Linked DNA regions of Homo sapiens: region 1 is linked to region 2. The links come from fine-mapping of genetic effects on gene expression. A gene starts in region 2. The other region holds a variant in brackets. All regions are shown on one strand. Distances are between the middles of the regions.

Region 1 (10,459 bases), 26 kb after region 2:
GATGAAAATGATTTTTTTTTTAAGTTTCATTTTTATTAGTTATATATACTCATAGGCAGGGGTCAGAAAACTATGGCCAGTGGGCCAAATCCAGCCCATCACCTGTTTTTGCTAACAAAGTTTTATTGGAGCACAGACAGGCTGGTTCATTTATATGTTGTCATTGACTTCTTTTGTGGTACAATGGCAGAGTTGAGTAGATGGGACAGAGTTCATGTGGCCTGGAAAGCCTGAAACCATGGCCAGCATCAGGGGCATGTGACCTGTGCAGTCACACACAAGGCCCTGCACTCTGGAGGGCCCCACCCTGGGTGTCACCATCTTGAAATTCTTCATACTTTTTGAAGGAGAGGCCCCACATATTCATTTTGCACTGGGCCCTGAAGATTATGTAGCTGGCCTTGTGTCAAATATTTACTACCTGTACCCTTAGAAAAAAAGTTTGCTGATCTCCTGATTAGGAGTCAACTGGTTCTATAAGGCTTGTTGAGACAGTCAGAAGCCCCAGCTCCCTCTGGTCCCAAGGGCAATGACTTTCAACTTTGCAGGTGATTCTTTTGCATTTACCTCTGTATCACTAAAGAACATGCTTGCATTGCTACTTCTTAGGAGGTAGCATTATCTTTTTTTTTCTTTGAGATGGAGTTTCACTCTTGTTGCCCAGGCTGGAGTGCAATGGCGTGATCTTGGCTCACTGCAACCTCCACCTCCCAGATTCAAGCAATTATCCTGCCTCAGCCTCCCGAGTAGCTGGGATGGAAGTAGCATTATCTATGAGCTAGATCTCATTCCTACCCCAAAGCAAATGCATGTGCACGCATCCATAGGGCCATGTGTACTGCTCAGCATTAAGCCTTGAAATAAACTGTGAAACTTTTTTGCCCCCTTGCACACTTTTGGTTTTCCCTGTAGTAAAAATTTAGAACTCACAGAGTTCTAAAATTTCATGTCTTGCTTTTTTCTTCTGCTTATTCTGTGTCTTTATCACTAACTCAACTCCACACCCTCAGCCAGTTGTCCACATCTGCTCTCTACACTCATTCATGCCAGGTGTCAGATCAGCTGCATCTTCTTGGAGATGTGGCTCCCAGAGCCTCCAGGTGTGTTCCAATGTGAACTGCTGCCCTCATACCACAGCCCATTGTCATTCTGGAGGCTCTCTTCACCTGGTTTTTGTGTTGGAACCTGTTTCCTGATCTTGTGCTTTCTCTTTCTTGATTTTCTCTGTTGTTTTGTTAGAGTGTTTCCTGTGACACCACGGTTCTGCATCCTGGGTGTGCCATGCAATTACCCAGAGAGCCTTAAAATGCTGGTGCTCAGGCCCTAAGCTCAGGGGATCTAGGAGACTATTATTTTTCTTTCTTTTTATTATTATTATTATTTTTGAGACGGAGTCTCTCACTGTCACCCAGGCTGGAGTGCAATGGTGTGATCTTGGCCCACCACAACCTCTGCCTCCCGGGTCAAGCGATTCTTCTGCCTCAGCCTCCCAAGTAGCTAGGATAATTAGGAGATTATGCCCAGATAATTTTTTGTATTTTTAGTAGAGACAGGGTGTCACTATGTTGGCCAGGCTGGTCACAAACTCCTGACGTCGTGATCCGCCTGCTTCGGCCTCCCAAAGTGCTGGGATTACAGGCATGAGCCACCGTACCCGGCCTCTTTTTATTATTTTTTGTATTTTTTGTAGAGATGAAGTCTCACTATATTGCCCAGGCTGGTCTCAAATTCCTAGTCTCAAGCAGTCTTCCTGCCTCGGCCTCCCAGTGTTGGGATGATCGTCATGAGCCACTGCACCTGGCCCAAGACTATTATTATTATTATTATTATCATTATTATTATTATTATTGAGACGGAGTCTCGCTCTGTCACCCAGGCTGGAGTGCAGTGGTACAGTCTCCACTCACTGCAACCTCTGCCTTCCGGGTTCAAGTGATTCTCCTGCCTCAGTCTCCCGAGTAGCTGGGATTACAGGCGTGCACCACCATGCCCGGCTAATATTTGTATTTTTAGTGGAGACAAGGTTTTGCCATGTTTGCCAGGCTGGTCTGGAACCCCTGACCTCAAGTGATCCACCTGCCTTGGCCTCCCAAAGTGCTGGAATTACAGGCATGAGCCACCACACCCAGCCCCAAGACTATTATTTTTAAAGTGTCACACAATGGTTTTGTTTTTGGGTGTCTTTTTTTTTTTTTGAGATGGGGTCTCACTATGTCTCCAGGCTGATCTCAAACTCCAGGCCTCAAGCAGTTCTCCCACCTCAGTCACTTGAGTATCTGGGATTACAGGTGCAAGCCACCACACCTGGCTTGCATGATGGTGTTGATGTGCAGGCAATATTTCAAACCACTGCTCATCAGGTAGTCTCCTACTGGGATACATGGGAGGTAAATGTTCTGAAACCTGGGTTGTTTGAAAATGTCTTTATTCTCACTCCCCACACTGGTTCATAGTTAGGCTGGATATGAGATTCTGGGTTGTAAATTATTTTTCTTCAGTATTTTGAATGCAATTTTCACTGTGTTCCAGTTTCCAATATTGCTGTTGAGAGGTTCAAAGCCATTCCAATTACTGATTTTGTATGAGTGTGTTTGTCTTGGTTTTCCTCTCTGGAAGCACGTAGAAACCATCTTTGTTCCCAGAGTTCTAAAATTTCATATGACATGTTTTGATGTAAGTGTATTTTCATCATATTGCAGGTAACTGGTGGTGCTTTTAATCTGGAAATTGAAGTCCTTAACTTCTGGAATATGTTTTTTGTTTGTTGTTGAGACAAGGTCTCGCTCTTTTGCTCAGGCTGGAGTCCAGTGGCGCAATCATAGCTCACTGAAGCCTCAACCTCCTGGGCTCACGGGACCCTTCCACCTCAGCCATCTGAGGAGCTGGGACTACAGGTGTACATCACCACACCTGGCTAATTTTTTAATTTTTTTGTGGAGATTGAGATCTTGCCATGTTGCTCAGGCTGGTCTCGAACTCCTGAGCTCAAGTGATCCTCCTGCCTCAACCTCCCAAAATACTGGGATTACAGGCATGAGCCACCATGCCCGGCCTGATTTTTTTTCATTGATGATTTTCTCCATCTGTTCTCTCTTTCTGAAATTTGTACTACTTGGATGTTACATTTGCAAGACTGGTCGTCTATTTTTCTTTTCTCTTTCCAATTTTCATCTCTCTGTTTGCTCTTTTAGGGAAATTTCTTTAACTTTACCCTCTAACGTTTCCATTAAATTTATTTTCATTTTTACTGTTACGTTTTTAATTTCCAAGAGTTCCTTTTTGTTTTCTGAATGCTCACGCTTCCTCTCCCATCTCCCCCTCATTTGTTTTTTTCATAGCTTCCTGGTCTTGTTTCTTGGGTGCAGTAATTTCTTTTATCAACCTGGAAATCTTAGTACAAATGTTTGAGTGGTTCTCTTCTCCTTACACAGTCTTAGTTTTTGTCCAGGTTGACATTTTTTTGTTTGCCCACTTCAACCTCTTTTTTTTTTTTTTTTTTTGAGATAGGGTTTTGCTGTGCACCCAGGCTGAAGTGTAGTGGCATAATCATGGCTCACTGCAGCCTCAAACTTCTGGGCTCAAGCAATCCTCCTACCTCAGCCTCCTGAATAGCTGGGACTACAGGCATGCGCCACCACACCTGGCTAATTTTTTGTAGGGATGAGGTCTCACTACGTTGCACAGGCTGGACTCAAACTCCTGGGCTCCAAGGATCCTCCCACCTCAGCCTCCCAAAGTGCTGGGGTTACAGGCGTGCGCCACTGTACCTGGCCCTCTTTTGGAATACAGTGTTTCTTGGGTAAATCTTGGATGTCTGCTCACTTAAGAGGAGAAAGACTGAGAAACTGACTGGAAGCTGGGGTGTATGAATACTCCTTTCTTACCCATTTTGTCATAGGATCTTCTGGTTGGCTATTTTTATGGGAGAACCCCTGCTGTCAGCAGCTTTGGGTCTTTTCCTCTCGGGCTGGCTTATTTTCCTGAGAAACTTTTCCAGTCTGC[TG/G]CTGAGAGGGTAAAGCAGGCTGGGGACTCAGCACTCAAAATATGGTCACTCGGCTGGGTACAGTGGCTCACGCCTGTAATCCCAGCACTTTGGGAGGCTGAGGCAGGTGGATCACGAGGTCAGGAGTTTAAGACCAGCCTGGCCAACATAGTGAAACCCCGTCTCTACTAAAAATACAAAAAAAATTAGCCAGGCTTGGTGGTGGGCACCTGTAATCCCAGCCCACTTGGGAGGCTGAGGCAAGGAGAATCGCTTGAACCTGGGAGGTGGAGGTTGCAGCAAGCCGAGATTGCACCACTGCACTCCAGCCCAAGCGACAGTGCGAGACTCCGTCTCAAAAAAAAAAAAGTCACTCGAATCCCCCGCCCCTGCCTTTCCCAACACTATCCCCTGTGTGACAGTGCTTGATGGCCCCAGGACAAAGACCGGCTCCAGAGAATAAAATCCCGGCACTGACAGCCACTTCATCACCAAGGCCTCTGAATGCTGCTTTCTAAGAGCCCACAAATGTGGCCACTTCTCCCATGTCCACCATCACTCAGTCCAAGTTGCCATCATCTCTCCCCAGACCGTGGACACAGCTGCCAACGTCTTGCCCTCCCATCATCTCTGCACCCAGGGACCAGGGTGGCTCTTTCATGCCACTTCCCTGCTGAAACCCCTCCATGATTTCCCATGCCCTCAGGACATGGGCCAGCTCCTCCGCTGAGGTCTGGCTTCTCCCTTCATCCCAGCCTCCTTCTGCAGCCCCTTCCTCACCCTCTTGCACCCCTGTCACATCTGGTGCCTCATCCGACTTTCTGGCCTTAAGACACAGCCCCATTAGCTCCTTCTCCTGAAAGTCTCTGCAGATCCTAGCACTTCTCACCCATTCTAAGAGTGCCCGCTCTCCCTGGGGATCCTGAAGGGAAAGTCTGCACCTCCACATCCACACCCTGAGCTTGAGTGCAGCACCCGGCACCCAAGAGGTGCTGAGCTGTACTGTGCCACAGAGATCATTGCCACTTTCAACTCTGACGAGCTCTGTTCTGGGAGCTGGCTGCCTGGGGAAGGGCTCTCTGACCACTGCCACTGACCCCATGGAGTCAGCCACTGGGTCTGTGAACTGGGGCTCTGTCAGCATGAGTGTCCCCCCGCTCCTGGGACCACCACAGTACATGCTGGTGAAGGGCCAGGATGGAAGGGCTACCTATCAGGTGTGCGGGATGCTGAGTGTGACCCCCAACCACCTTGCATGACCTTGATGCGGTGGCCATCCCAGAGAGGACACTGCTCCACCCAGCTGCTTACCTTTCCTTAGGACAACTGTTTGAAAGTCCCTTTCTAGAATGGTCCTAATGGGCATGGCCAGGGAGCTGGTCCCTCATGTAAGTAGCAACTGGGCAGGCTGCCAGGGCAGCTGGAATGGGGCAGTGGAGCTGTGTTCACAGAACGCTTGTCAGGAGCCAGGCACCTGGTGCTTCTCTGCCCACTTAAAGGAGGGCATTACGATCGCCATTGTATAGATGGGGAAAGAGAAGCTCCCTAAGTGCCTCACTCAGGGTCACACAGCCAGAAAGTGTGAGGGATTCGAACCCAGGATTCTCCAGCCCCAGCTGCACGTTGGTAGCAGGAGAAACAGCGAGAGCTTTCTGGCTCTGTGGCTAACCTCACCAAAGGGAATCCATGCAGACAGCTGCAGTGCACACGGTGTTTTCCCCACACTCTGGCTGTTAGTTTTGTTGGCTAAAACAATCATCACCCTGGAGCTGCTTTTCACAGTTCTAGATTGTGGTGGGTTTCTCAGCCTCTCTGCTGGCTCGGGGAGGCTTCGGGAAGGTGGTGGAGCAGGTGCCCTCTTTGCAGGTAGGGATTGTGAAACATTTGCTCTGGAGCCCAGGGATGAATAATGCGGAAGGCTCTCTTCTCAGGATAATGGATTCCAGAATCCCAGCACTGCTCCGGCAGGAGGCGAGGACCGGTGGCTCTGCACTGGCACCCCCTGTTGACCTGGGTGTGGCTCAGCAGCCTTCTCCTCTGGCTTGTTTTCCAGTAACTGGTGCCCCTACCCAATGTCCAAGCTGGTCACCTTACTAGCTCTTTGCAAAACAGAGAAATTCCTCATCCACTCGCAGCAGCCGTGTCCGCAGGGAGCTCCAGACTGCCAGAAAGTCAAAGTCATGTGAGTAGGGGAGGGTGGGCCATTTGCCCAGGCCTGGAGCGGGCCCTCCCTGGAATCACTGAGCCAGCCCTTCTCCTCTTCCAGGTACCGCATGGCCCACAAGCCAGTGTACCAGGTCAAGCAGAAGGTGCTGACCTCTTTGGCCTGGAGGTGCTGCCCTGGCTACACGGGCCCCAACTGCGAGCACCACGGTAGGGCTCCCTGCGGCCCCCTTCCCCCCTTGACCTCTGATCCCCAAGGTCAAGCAGCTCCTCTGACCACTGGGGTCAATAACTAATGCTTTCTTCTGCAGATTCCATGGCAATCCCTGAGCCTGCAGATCCTGGTGACAGCCACCAGGAACCTCAGGATGGACCAGTCAGCTTCAAACCTGGTGTGTTGCTTTCCGGAAGGGGAAGGCAGGCAGGCTGGTGGGGCCCATGTAGCCAGCTGGCCCTTTTTCCTGTGATACAGCAGTGCCATTTCAGGGAAACCTTGCCTCCAGAATCAGCAAGGCCTGCTCTGTGGCCTGTACCACCTCCCACCTTGAAGGCCAGGCTCACAGGGCCCCCAGCGGCCTACTGGCCAAGCACACACACCCTTTTCCTTCACCCCATCTTCTGGGAAGGACTGGTTCATCTGGCACTTTCCTTGCCCCGCTGAACCACACAAGCCCTTGTGCCTGGAAAAAGCATTCTCACCCTTTCCCACAGCCCTAACCAGAGCCAGGAAGTCATGCTGTCCTTGGTCTTGGAGTCAGCACAGGAAACCCACCAAGAGACACCATTTGCAGCAGGGCCCTTTAAGGCTGGGCCCAAGATTGAGAAAGTAAATGAGTTTCATTATGTGGTGAAGTATTTATTGACAAGGGCTGCCAAGAATGAAGTTGTGAGGCCATGTGCATGTGCTGAGGAGGGGAGTGTACCATGATTGATTAGTCATGTCTGCTGTAGGTGTAGGAGGCAGGGTGAGGGCTCACTTGCTATGCATTTGCCCTCCAGGGGTTTAAGGCTTCTAAGCTCCTGCTCAGAGGACATCAGCAGCTAACTTCCCTGCTCTCAGCCTTCAACTCTCCTTCTCTGAACCTTGTGATCTTCCCAGGCCTGGTGAGTTAGCCCTTGACATTTATGTCTGCTGTGTATTTAGGCCACCTTGCTGCAGTGATCAATGAGGTTGAGGTGCAACAGGAACAGCAGGAACATCTGCTGGGAGATCTCCAGAATGATGTGCACCGGGTGGCAGACAGCCTGCCAGGCCTGTGGAAAGCCCTGCCTGGTAACCTCACAGCTGCAGTGATGGAAGCAAATCAAACAGGGCACGGTGAGTGGCAGGCTCTAGGGGCTGAGGAAGAGCCTGGTCACATTGAGGGGAGGAGGGGAGGACCCCGCTGGTCCCAGCCTGGGAGGAGTGTCTGCTCCTGCAGGGCTTGTGTCACACCACATGTCTGTTGCAGAGTTCCCTGATAGATCCTTGGAGCAGGTGCTGCTACCCCACGTGGACACCTTCCTACAAGTGCATTTCAGCCCCATCTGGAGGAGCTTTAACCAAAGCCTGCACAGCCTTACCCAGGCCATAAGAAACCTGTCTCTTGACGTGGAGGCCAACCGCCAGGCCATCTCCAGAGTCCAGGACAGTGCCGTGGCCAGGGCTGACTTCCAGGAGCTTGGTGCCAAATTTGAGGCCAAGGTCCAGGAGAACACTCAGAGAGTGGGTCAGCTGCGACAGGACGTGGAGGACCGCCTGCACGCCCAGCACTTTACCCTGCACCGCTCGATCTCAGAGCTCCAAGCCGATGTGGACACCAAATTGAAGAGGCTGCACAAGGCTCAGGAGGCCCCAGGGACCAATGGCAGTCTGGTGTTGGCAACGCCTGGGGCTGGGGCAAGGCCTGAGCCGGACAGCCTGCAGGCCAGGCTGGGCCAGCTGCAGAGGAACCTCTCAGAGCTGCACATGACCACGGCCCGCAGGGAGGAGGAGTTGCAGTACACCCTGGAGGACATGAGGGCCACCCTGACCCGGCACGTGGATGAGATCAAGGAACTGTACTCCGAATCGGACGAGACTTTCGATCAGATTAGCAAGGTGGAGCGGCAGGTGGAGGAGCTGCAGGTGAACCACACGGCGCTCCGTGAGCTGCGCGTGATCCTGATGGAGAAGTCTCTGATCATGGAGGAGAACAAGGAGGAGGTGGAGCGGCAGCTCCTGGAGCTCAACCTCACGCTGCAGCACCTGCAGGGTGGCCATGCCGACCTCATCAAGTACGTGAAGGACTGCAATTGCCAGAAGCTCTATTTAGACCTGGACGTCATCCGGGAGGGCCAGAGGGACGCCACGCGTGCCCTGGAGGAGACCCAGGTGAGCCTGGACGAGCGGCGGCAGCTGGACGGCTCCTCCCTGCAGGCCCTGCAGAACGCCGTGGACGCCGTGTCGCTGGCCGTGGACGCGCACAAAGCGGAGGGCGAGCGGGCGCGGGCGGCCACGTCGCGGCTCCGGAGCCAAGTGCAGGCGCTGGATGACGAGGTGGGCGCGCTGAAGGCGGCCGCGGCCGAGGCCCGCCACGAGGTGCGCCAGCTGCACAGCGCCTTCGCCGCCCTGCTGGAGGACGCGCTGCGGCACGAGGCGGTGCTGGCCGCGCTCTTCGGGGAGGAGGTGCTGGAGGAGATGTCTGAGCAGACGCCGGGACCGCTGCCCCTGAGCTACGAGCAGATCCGCGTGGCCCTGCAGGACGCCGCTAGCGGGCTGCAGGAGCAGGCGCTCGGCTGGGACGAGCTGGCCGCCCGAGTGACGGCCCTGGAGCAGGCCTCGGAGCCCCCGCGGCCGGCAGAGCACCTGGAGCCCAGCCACGACGCGGGCCGCGAGGAGGCCGCCACCACCGCCCTGGCCGGGCTGGCGCGGGAGCTCCAGAGCCTGAGCAACGACGTCAAGAATGTCGGGCGGTGCTGCGAGGCCGAGGCCGGGGCCGGGGCCGCCTCCCTCAACGCCTCCCTTCACGGCCTCCACAACGCACTCTTCGCCACTCAGCGCAGCTTGGAGCAGCACCAGCGGCTCTTCCACAGCCTCTTTGGGAACTTCCAAGGGCTCATGGAAGCCAACGTCAGCCTGGACCTGGGGAAGCTGCAGACCATGCTGAGCAGGAAAGGGAAGAAGCAGCAGAAAGACCTGGAAGCTCCCCGGAAGAGGGACAAGAAGGAAGCGGAGCCTTTGGTGGACATACGGGTCACAGGGCCTGTGCCAGGTGCCTTGGGCGCGGCGCTCTGGGAGGCAGGTGAGTTCCTGGGCTGGGGAGACTGGACGAGCCTAGGAGGCCAGGGCCGGCTGCCGGCAGCTCTTCTGCCTCCAAGAGGGCCAGGAAGAAAGAGAACAGGATGGCCATCCGTCACCCCTACTAGGTCCACCTTCCCCTTGGCCCACCTGCTTCTCAGGGGTGTGGGTCTCTCAAGCTACCTGGCTTATGGGGAGACAGAAGTCACAAGAACCACCTGCTAGTGCCAGAGCCCGTGAGCGGCATAGCCTGGAGGCCACAGGCACAATAGTGCCGCCTACTGCTCCTGCTACAGAGAGGGCATCGCCTCCTGCCCTGCCAGGGCAGCCTTCAAGTCCCCCCATCTCATCTCTTCACCTCACCCCCTTCATTCCCATGTGCGTTTAAGCCACTGTATCTAGGAAGAATGTGGATAGGGACTGTGGCCACTTGCAGCCCCACTTAGTTCTGTTTCATTTTCCATGATTTTAGTTTTTTTTTTGTTTTTTTTTTCTTTTTCTTTTCTTTTTTTTTTTTTTTTTAAGATGGGTCTCACTTTGTCGTCCAGGCTTGAGTACAGTGGTGGGATCATGGCTCACTGCAGCCTAGACCTCTCCAGGCTCAGCTGATCCTCCCACTTCAGCCTCCAGAGTAGCTAGGACTTACAGGCATGTGTCACCATGCCTAGCTAATTTTTGTACTTTTTGTAGAGACAGGGTCTTGCTATGGTGCCCAGGCTGGTCTCAAATTCCTGGGATCAAGTAATCTGCCCACCTCAGCCTCCTAAAGTGTTAGGATTACAGGTGTGAGCCATGTGCCCAGCCTTGATTTCAGTTTCTTGCATCAACCACGATCAGAAAATAGGTGAGTACAGTACAATAAGATTTTGAGAGAGGGAGACACCACATTCATATAACTTTTATTACAGTATACTGTTATAATTGCTTTATATTTTATTATTATTGTCAATCTCTTACTGTGCCTAATTTACAAGTTAAACTTTGGCATAGGTATGTACATAGAGGAAAATAAATAGTATATATAGGGTTTGGTACTGTCTGAGATTTCAGGCACC
Region 2 (10,459 bases):
AATACAATTATGCAGGAGCTGGGCACAGTGGTGCATGCCTATAGTCCTAGCTACTCCAGAGGTTGAGGCAGGAGGATCACTTGAGCCCAGGAGTTCGAGGCCATAGTGTGCTATGTTCACACCTGTGAACAGCCACTGCACTCCTGCCTGGGCAACACAGGGAGACCTCATCTCTAAAAAAAAAAAAAAGACAAAAGATAAGTGTTGGTGAGAATGTGGAGAAAAGGGAACCCTTGTACACTATTAGTGGGAATGCAAATTGATATAGCCATTATGAAAAACACCATGGAAGGCCAGGCGTGGTGGCTCACATCTGTAATCTCAGCACTTTGGGAGGCCGAGACGGGCAGATCACGAGGTCAGGAGTTCAAGACCAGTCTGGCCAACATAGTGAAACCCCATCTCTACTAAAAAAAAAAAAAAAAATTAGCGGGTGTGGTGGTGTGTGCCTGTCATCCCGGCTACTCGGGAGGCTGAGGCAGGAGAATTGCGTGAACCCAGGAGGCAGAGGTTGCAGTGGGCTGAGATCGTGCCATTGCACTCCAGCCTGGGCAACAGTGCAAGACCTGGTCTAAAAAAAGAAAGAAGGAAAGAAAGAAAGAAAAACACTATGGGGATTCCTCAAAAAATTAAATATAGAGCTAACTTATGATCCAACAATCTGTCTTCTGGGTATATATGTATATGTATACATACACCACACATACACAGGTACATACACACACACACACACACACACATATATATACACACACACATATATATACACACACATATATATACACACACATATATACACACACACACACATACATATATACTTTTTTTTTTTTTTTGAGATAGGATCTCACTCTGCCACTCAGGCTGGAGTGCAGTAGCGCAATCATGGCTCACTGCAGCCTTCAACTCCTGGGCTCAAGGGATCCTCCCACTTCAGCCTTCTTAAGTAGCTGGGACTACAGGCGTGCACCACCACACCTGGATACTTTTCCTATTTTTTGTAGAGATGGGGTATCACTGTCACCCAGTCTGATCTAAAACTCCCGAGCTCAAGCTATCCTCCCACCTCAGCCTCCCAAAGTGCTGGGATTACAGGCCTGAGCTACCACGCCCAGCCTTGAATTAGTATTCAAAGGGCAAACTGCACACCAGGCAACAATGAACCAGAGCCATAATCATTGAGACAAACTCTAGAAAAATTATTGTACTTTAAACTTAAAGAAAGAAAACAAGCCAGAAATATCATGTTGCTTATTAGAAATTCCTGCAGGAGTCTGGACACAGTGGCTCACACCCGTAATCCCAGTGCTGTGGGGAGGCTGAGGTGGGAGGATCACTTGAGCTCAGGAGTTTGACATCAGCCTGGACAACATAGTGAGACTCCACCTCTACAAAAAAAAATTTGTTTTAATTAGCTGAGCATGGTGGCACACACCTGTAATCCCAGCTACTTGGGAGGCTGAGGTAGGAGGATTGCTTGAGGCCAGGAGTTTGAGGCTGCAGGGAGCCATGATCAGGCCACTGCACTCCAATCTGGGTGACAGAGCCAGACCCTCCCTGTCTCTACAAAAAAAAATTCCAGTAGGGAGCTGGTGCAGCGGCTCACACCTGTAATCCCAGCCCTTTGTTAGGCCAAGGTGGGAGGACTGCTTGAGGCCAAGAGTTTGAGACCAGCCTGGGGAACATAGTGAGACCCCCATCTCAAAATAAATAATAAATTAAAATTAAAAATAAAAAAAGAAATTTCAGTGTGCATCAGACATGTAGGGTCTGCTCAACCTTCTGTGCCAGAAGGCAGTTGCAGCCACACCTAGAAGACACTGAAGCTGAAGAGGGAGCCACAAACCTCAAACCCAGCCAGGGATAAAGTCTAAAGGCTACAGACTAACAATACCAACCAAACATTTAAAAATCAGAATACTGTTCACATAAGCCCTTCTTTTTATAAAATTTTTATTTTAACTTTTTTACCGTTTTAAAAATAGAAAATGTCATACACAAAAATAGAATATAATGGGCCGGGCACGGTGGCTCCCGACTGTAATCCCAGCACTTCAGGAGGCTGAGGTGGGAGGATCACCTGAGGTCAGGAGTTCGAGACCAGTCTGGCCAACATAGTGAAACCCTGTCTGTACTAAAAATACAAAAATTAGCCAGGCATGGTGGCACATGCCTGCAATCCCAGCTACAGGCATGAGCTGAGACAGGAGGCTGAGACAGGAGAATCGCCTGAACCCAGGAGACGGAGGCTGCAGTGAGCCGACATCATGCCAGTGCACTCCAGCCTGGGCAACAGAGGAAGACTCTGTCTCAAAAAAATAAATAAATAAATAAATAAATATATATATATATATAAATAAAATGAACCCTCATGGACCCATTACCCAGTTATAGAAATTATTAACTCAGATATCAGATGTCTTATCTCTGTAAACATTTATCATCTTTAACTATTTCATTCTTGAGAAGACTCTGGGCTGGGTGCGGTGGCTCACACCTGTACTTCCAGCACTTTGGGAGGCCAAGGCTGATGGATCACCTAAGATCAGGTATTTGAGACCAGCCTGGCCAAAATGGTGAAACCCCATCTCTACTAAAAATACAAAAATTAGCCAGGCGTGGTGGCAGGCACCTGTAATCCCAGCTATTCCGGAAGCTGAGGCAGAAGAACTGCTTGAACCTGGGAGGTGGAGGTTGCAGTGAGCGGACACTGTGCCACTGCACTCCTGCCTGGGTAACAGGAGTGATACTCTGTCTCAAAAAAAAAAGAGAGAGAGAGAGAGAGAGAGAAGACTCTGCAGGACTAATTCTAACCAACCAAGAGATAGCAGAAAATATTCAGCAGAAGGAATGGCAAACAGCTTTTAATATCTTCAATTGCAGATCCAAGACAAAAACAAAGGTGTGGTTCAGGGCTGAGGAATGGAATGCAACTCTACGTGTTTTCACAATGTAGAAATGGGACAAGTAACATTTTTTAAAAAGGCGGCGGAGGGAGAGAAGGGGAGAGGAGGTGAAAGTGGAAGAATCTGCACCCTGCCTCATGTGTAGTCTGATGGGGGTCAAAGCTGAGAACTCCAGCGGTAGACGTTTGGGAGATTACATACAAAGAAGCTCATCCTACGGACTGAAAATGGGGATGAAGAAGAAGAGGGAGGAAGGAACGCCATCCAGAGAAAATGGTTTAAGGGAACACCTCCACCTGAAAATGCAGTCATTTGTAAGTGGAACCACAATGTAATGTTAGTGACTGTGTGTTTGGCTAGATGGGGAACTGGAATTTGGAGAATTAGGAATTATGTGTGGCATTGCTAATGGAAGAATTGATCTCTGGAGGACTGACTGACACCCAATAGGTGTAGTGTGGCCACAATCCTTCCTCCTCAGCCAGTCTGGGCTGTACTTGCTCCATGAACCTGGTGGAGACAGGCCTGGGCAGTATAAGCTCCCAAGGGCTCCTCTGGTGAAGCTGTCCTCACAGGGTTAACAAGCATTCTACACAGAAATATAGTTATAATTAAGCATTAACAGTTATAATTAAAAATTAACAGTTATAATTAAGCATTAATGAGGCTGTGCTTTAACTAAATTCCTTCTATAGAACTTCCCGTGGCACTGTATACTGACCATCTGCATCCCCACTGTTCCCACAGTTCGGCTTTCTGATGTTAGAATCATAGGCTTTTGTTTAGGAATTCCTTAAAACGTTTTTTTCGTTTGTTTTTTCAGTTTTTTTTTTTCCGAGACAGAGTCTCACTCTGTCGCCCAGGCTGGAGTGCAGCGGCACCATCTTGGCTCAGCAACCTCCACCTCCCAGGTTCAAGCAATTCTCCTGCCTCAGCCTCCCAAGTAACTGGGATTACAGGCGCACGCCACCAAACCCGACTAATTTTTGTATTTTTAGTAGAGACAGGGTTTCACTATGTGGCCAGGCTGGTCTCGAACTCCTAACGTCAGATGATCCGCCCACCTTGGCCTTCAGAGTACTGGGAAAACAGGAATGAGCCACCGCATCCAGCCTAAAATGTTTTTCAGATTCCAAATTCCAGTGAAACAAGTGACCCCAACCAGTTTGAACAGCCCAGAAGAACATAATCAGCATGAGAATACAGTTTTTTCATCTCCCTGGCCCCATGACTTCACTCCGCACTCTTCAACAAATCAACAATCTCCACACTTTGGCCTGCTCTAAAACTCTTAAGAACCCTAACCCCAAACTTCTCGGAGAGAGATTTGAGGTTTTCTCCCATCTTGTCTGGCAGCCCTGCGACTAAACCTCTTTCTTCTGCTGCAACCCGGTGTTTCGGGTGTATGGACTTGCCCTGCCATCAGGCAAGGGACCTATTACAGAGACACTGGCTCTGTGCCCTCTGTGTCCCAGACATGGTTCAAAAGGCAAGTCCCACCTGGCCCTGCCCTCCAGGGCTCCTAGTGTCGGGGGAGCAGAGGCACACAGGAACAGGCAATTGCACAGCGCCACCGGAGCACCAGCTCCATGGGGCTGGGGCAATGTGGAAGGGGCTGCATTGCAGAGATGGTTCCATGGTAAACCTGAAAATGAGAACTCACTGTCATCCATCAGGAGAACAAAAGGATGGTCCTCCATGCAATCATTTAGCCAGTGCTGCCTGAGCACCGCAGAAGACACAGAGCATGCACTAAAAAGGGACTGGTTACAGCCCCATGAACCACCACTATGGAGAAGCACACATGAAGGCTCATTGTGACTCTAAAAAGGAGGTACAGGGGGTGTGAGAATGTGTCACCAGGGGCCTGATGCATATTGTGTGTGTGTGTGTGTGTGTGTGTGTGTGTCGGCACACCCAAGGCCGCTGAGACCTGACGTTTGGAAGAGCAATAGGCAAGGGTGATTTATGGAGAGTATGCCAGGCAGAAAATGCCGCAGGTGTGAAGATACCGAGGCAGCAGGAGCATGATGGGAAGGTCAAGGTGGCTGAGATGGAAGGGAGGGGGTGTTGTGGGAACAGGCTGGAGGTCTGGGAGGCTCTGCCCTCATCAGCAGGTGGGCTTTTCCTTAGACTTGTTCCTCAGACTTGTTCCTCCTGTGGTTCCAAGTGGCTGGTTCTAGGGTTCCTTTCCAGCCACAAGGTGTCCAGAGGAAGATGAAGGGCGGCTTTTTTTTTTTTTTCTGAGACAGGGTCTCACTCTGTTGCCCAGACTGAGTGCAGCGGTCCTCGACCTCCCGGTCTCAAGTCATTCTCCCGCCTCAGCCTCCCAAAGTGCTGGGATTACAGGCTGAGCCACCATGCCCCGCCTTCAAGACAAGAAAAGCCTTTTCTAGAAGACTCCTGGCCTCAGGCCTGATCTCTCTCCTTGGCCGCACCTGGGTCGCACTTAAGGCGATCACTCACAAGGAGAACAAGTGAAAAGTCCCTTGGGATTCATCCCTGAGTCATAGGGGAATGATGCACACCAGAAGGATGCTGGGCTCTGCCAGTCCAGCCCCACCAGCCTCCTGGAGTGGCCCTGAGGCCGGCTCTCCAGACCCTAGGACCTGCTCCTGGAGGCAGGGGCTCCTGGAAGCGCCCCTGACACTGCTCCGGGTGTCTCTTCAAGGACTTTCCCACATTCTACAAAGAAACCTTTTGGGGACAGTCAGCAACATGTAACCGATAGTGGAACCAGGGCAGCCCTGGGTTAAGGGTGGTAGACACGTGCCCCGCGAGGGAGATCTCAGACTGGAGAAGGGAACGGCCTCCTAGGCAGACCTGTACTGCAGCATCTGGACTGGCAGCCAGGTTGGGGACTTCGTCCCCTGCTGGGAGGCCGGGGAAGGCAGGGAGCGCGCCTTGAGTCCGCTGACTAAATCGCCTCAGAACTGGGAAGCACCGCGTAGTCGGTACCTTTCAACAGAAACGCAGAGGCCACTGGCGCGCAGGAGGAGGCGACTGCAGGTGGAGGTAGTACCGGGGTAAAGACATGGAGCGGGTGGACGGGAACCGCTAGGGGCCCGCTGGGGCGTGAGGGGCGCGGGGAGGAAAGGGCCGCAGCAGCCCACGCCCCGCGCCAGGGCCAGGCCTCATCCGGCGCTCAACCAGTGCCACGTTGAGTCACCTACTGGCAAGGCATACACCGTACCGGGGCCACACGCGTGGACACGTGCCGGGGGGGTGCTGGGAACACCAGTCCATCCGGAACCCACTAGACAAAACCTTCCAGGGCCGGAGGTTACCGGTTTGTCCCGAAAGGAAGTGGTGTGGAAGGGAGGGGTCTCCCGCACGCGAGCGCGCACGTGCATGCCCCCCCCACAACCGTGCTTCGTTCTCACGTGCACGGCCCCGTGCCCCGAAGCCCCTCCCCGGGGAGTGGCGGGGCGGGACCCCGCCGGGCGGCAGCGCCCCACTCAACAAAGCTTCCCGCGGGCCCTGCCCCATGACTCACCGCTGGGTGGGGCGGGCACGCAGGCAACCCGCGGGCCGAGACGGGGTAGTGAGGGCCGGAAGCCCGGCTCCCGACTCCGCTTCGTCCCCACAACCTCCGGCCGCCTGAAGTCCTGAGGGGCCGTGGCCCTGGGTCGTCTCCCCTGTTCCCAGCCTCCAGTCGCAGCTGGCGGAGAGAAGTTCCCGAGGCCCCCCCGACTTGCAAGGTCCCTTGCCCCGCCCAGAGCTGAGCCTTCCGAGGATCTGAGGACCGAGTCCAGCCCAGCTCCCAGGAGGGGCCGGGATCCTGGGGCAGGGAATAAGGGGCAGGGGCTGGCTCTAAAGTCGGGCGGGAGAGGGGCACTAACCGAGATGGGGGCTGAGCCTCCGGTCTGGGAGCTTCGGGAGGCGCGTGGCGGGATGGAAAACATTCCTGAGACCGTTGGATTGGATTTCCGAATTTGGGAGGCTAGGACTCCGGCTACGGTGGCTCTGCTCTTGGGATGAGAGGACTGGGCCCAGCTTGCGAGGAATCATGAAGTGGACACAGGGTGGGAACGTGAATTTTAATGAGGGGGCAGACCGAGGAGGTGGTGGCTGCCCGGAGATCAGGGCCAGGCTGTGCTAGATGGCGCCTGGAAGGGGGGTCACCCAAGTCTCCCTGCTGTCATTTCAGGAGGCCGACCCAAGTCTCCCTGCTGTCATTTCAGGAGGCCGAATTTTTTCCCAATCCCAGAGAAGGTGTCAGAGGCCTGGTTAGCAGTCTTGTCGATGGTTTCCTGGGTGGTCTTGGCCAGCTGGTCCATGGCTGGGGAAGGGCGGGAGAGAGGGCAGGTCAGGCAGGGCCCGGGAACCACAGTGCCTGTAGGCTTAGCCTGGCCTGGGTCTCCCGGGGGACCTGCTTGGGGCATTGTGGACAGAGGGCTCTGCAGAGGAGAGGATGTGCCTGGGCCCCAGCCGGGATGGGGCGGGGAGTGGGAGGTGTGCTGGGGTTGCCCGCCTCCCTCCAGCCCCACCAGACCTTTCTGCCCCGCCTCTGTGGCCTGGTCCACCACTTGCTGAGCTGCCGCTCCGGCCGCTGACACTGGAACAGAGAGATGTGGCTTTTAGCCCCTGTTGAGGCACCACCGACTACAGGTGCCCCACCATTGCCATGCCTCTGTGTCCTCCAGAGTATTCGGTGGTACAGGTCCAAGGGATGGATGCCATGGAGATAAAGTCCCTGGCCCAGGGCCCCCCAGCCCGAGGGGCAGGAGACCTTTCCATGCCTCTGGGATGTTTTTGTTTATTTCTAACTCTGAGCTCCTTCTCTGTGGGGGAGGAGCTTCCCTTTCCATCTCCAGGGCTACTGAGAAAATGTTGGACAGAGGAAGGAAGGCAGGGCAGGGCCAGGCTGCAGCTAGCATCTGGACTGTTGGCTAATGCTGGTGATGGCGCAGAAGACCCTTGCCCCCTTTTACAGCTTCTCCCCTAGAAGCCTGGCCCAGATGCCTGAATTCCCACCTTTCATGCACTTAGCCCTGGGGCTTGCAGTTTTGCCAGGTCCTTACTGCCTCCTCCCTCCTGTGGCCTGCCCGGAGGGGCACACAAGCAAAGCCAGTGCCTCTGTGGACAGGCAGCTTAAGACATTAGGAGACAAATGAAGGAAGGAGGCAAAACTTCCAAGGCCGGACTATCTCCTCTGGACCAGAGTTTCGGCCTGCTGGGAATGGAGTCACCAGCCCCGGGGGGGCTGACAGGTGGCTCCCGCCTACAGAGCTGTAACTCATCCCTGCTGCTGAACAGGAAAGGGCCTGCCTTACCCAGATCCCATCCTCCGGAAAGGGTTAGTCAGGCAAGTGTGCTGAGAGGCCCCTGGGAACCTCGTCTCGATTAACCCATCAGAAAGCAGCCCATCCTTTGCACCCAGCTCTCAGATGGAAAAGTGAAGCCCAGAAGGAAGGGACCTGACACGGAGGCTTCCTTGGTAGCATTTCAGTCTCAAGGGAAGAACTGTGGGCCTCCCCTGGAGCACTGGTGAAGTAAGGGGTTGGTTTGGATATTGTCTCCTGACTGGGATATGGGCAGGACTGACAGGGAGCTGGAGTCCTAACGAAGCCTGGGCTAGGTGCAGGAAGAACCAACCCAGTGGTCTCCTGACATCTCCCACGCCCCCACCGCAGCTGGGTCACCTCCAGAATACGGAGGAGAGAGCTGGAGGTGGAGGAACTAAGGACCTTCTTTGCCAGGTGGGGACTTAAAGGTAAGGCGACGATTACTTTTCGGCGATGGGGGTGGGATGGAAACAAAGCCCTTTGAGGTCTGGGGCAGCCTCTGGTGGCGCGCGCGGGTTTAAGTGGTGGCGGGCCGCGCCCGATCCCTGTCCTGGACCTTCACCCTCTCCTGAGGGCCTGGGCGGGCCGCCCAGCGCCAGCATGGCCTCCTTGGAGGGGCTCCCGCAGTGCCCGCAGCGCAGCTCCGGCTCCTCCGGAGCCTCTGTTCCGCTGCCTCCCTGCGGGCACCATCTGTCTGCTCGCCGGGGTGGGCGTTCTGCCTGCCCCCTGCGTCTCAGTGGAGGACCGAGCCTTCCGAGCCAAGCTGCCGGTCCAGGAACTTGCGGACCGCGCCGACCCGCTGCTTCTGCCTGCGCATCCACGCAGGTGCCCCTGCCTGAGCCCTAGGTCGCGCGCTATCCTCACCGGCTTCCTGGGCGGTCCCCTCCACCTGTTGCTTCAGGTCCTGCAAGCCCTTGCTTGCCATGGCTTCGGGGTATCTGTGGAGTCGTCAAGAGCAGCTGGAGCGACGTTGGATCCTGCCCAGAGTGGCGATGCCAAGCGCCAGCTCCGGTTTTTAAGGCGCCCCAGGGCTGGCCTGCCCCGCGTAGGGGAGAGGGCGCGGGGCGGTTCCCGTCATACAGGCTCCGGGGAGTGGCCGGGCCCTGCTCCAGAGTCCGCAGGGCAGGGAGCACATCCTGGCCTAAGACGGGCCGCGGTGGGAAAGGGGCAGACCGAACCAGGGACCGAAGAGGTGCCAGGACAGGGGTCCAGAGAGGAGCTGGAGGCAGGAGAAGGGCGCACACCACCTCCCAGCTCATCAGCCCCAGCCCTCCCTTTCTGATCCTGGGCGTGAGCGCTGGGTCAGCTCCAGGGCAGGAGCTCAGGGCTGGTGTTGACCTTAATGACAGCAGTGGTCTTTTACTGAGCATTTGTCTTGTGCCAGGTGCTGCCTAACGCTCTGCAGTCTCTTGTATAATCTTTACAACCACCTCCTGAAGTGGGTATTTTTGTTGATAGCATCAGTGTATAGGAGGAAACTGAGGCAGTGAGGTCGGTCTCACCCAAACGCATGTGGCAGGGACTTGGATCCTCGAATCTGCCTAGGTGCCTGTAAACCCTAGGGCTCTGGCATCATCGGAGCCCCCAGCCCCAAACAGCTGCAGGGGCACTGCTGACTGGCTCTCTGCCTGTAGCCAGAGACCCAGTGGATGCAGCCGGAGAGGGCCTGGTAAATCTTTCCCCTGAGAGGGCGAGATACAGGTGTGTGCACTTGCAGACCATGCAACCCCAAGGGGGAGAGGGCAGTGTGCCTGTGCAGCCCAGGCAAGGAGATTGCCGTCTGTCACCGAAGCCTTAGGAAGTTGGGCAGGAAGCATGGCTCAGGGAGGGCAGGAATAAGCTTGGGCCTCTCAGGTCACCTTTCCTGAGATGGGGCAGGCAAGGCGCTAGAGAGTATGACTTGTGGCTGTTAGGAGGGGACTTAGGGACCTGGGCCTGAGTGGAGAAGATCATCCTTGGGTGCAGCAAAACAGCTTGCAAGATACATTCCCCTGGCACACAAGGGGTGTAGGTCAGGCCCCACCCAGCTGGGTATACTCCCACTCCAGAGTAGGCCTTCAGGACCTGGAGGCCAGTGCACACCCACCCTGCCTTTCTGGGTCTCTCTACCGCTTCCTGTCCGGGGCTGTTTCTTGCACCTCTGCTGGTGTCTCCCCTATTCTGGAGCGCTGGGAAGCCCCTGCCACACAGGCTTGGTCTGCTGGCACATACCCTGCTTCTAGTGCTGCGGGGTCAGCCCCTAGAGGGAGTTGTTTGGAAGTGCAC

The links. PIP is the estimated chance that this variant, and not a neighbour inherited with it, causes the effect. A credible set is the group of variants that fine-mapping cannot tell apart.
Region 1: its variant is the best candidate, but not a certain one, in a credible set for the expression of ADIRF-AS1 in whole blood (TOPMed, PIP 0.87).

What each region holds. Positions count from the first base shown.
Region 1 is chr10:86,941,266-86,951,724 of GRCh38, reverse strand. MMRN2 (multimerin 2) reads left to right here. Exons shown (of 7, transcript NM_024756.3): 2 at 6,036-6,164; 3 at 6,249-6,355; 4 at 6,457-6,537; 5 at 7,290-7,463; 6 at 7,597-9,408. Among named protein-coding and RNA genes, the nearest start is that of MMRN2, 11 kb to the left of the region's middle. RefSeq lists an enhancer at 6,508-7,081. The variant TG/G (reference allele first, on the strand shown) is at 4,003.
Region 2 is chr10:86,967,205-86,977,663 of GRCh38, reverse strand. ADIRF-AS1 (ADIRF antisense RNA 1) reads left to right here and starts at 6,424. Exons shown (of 2, transcript NR_170185.1): 1 at 6,424-8,622. ADIRF (adipogenesis regulatory factor) reads right to left here and starts at 9,182. Exons shown (of 3, transcript NM_006829.3): 1 at 9,059-9,182; 2 at 7,402-7,464; 3 at 6,749-7,188. The coding sequence starts at 9,119. The coding sequence ends at 7,082. LOC124902474 reads right to left here and starts at 6,259. Exons shown (of 3, transcript XM_047426123.1): 1 at 6,100-6,259; 2 at 4,407-4,551; 3 at 2,849-3,495. The coding sequence starts at 6,259. The coding sequence ends at 3,384. AGAP11 (ArfGAP with GTPase domain, ankyrin repeat and PH domain 11) reads right to left here and starts at 7,328. Exons shown (of 11, transcript NR_171046.1): 1 at 6,749-7,328. RefSeq lists silencers at 5,947-6,496, 8,078-8,372 and enhancers at 5,695-6,894, 6,731-7,482, 7,483-8,236, 9,743-10,459.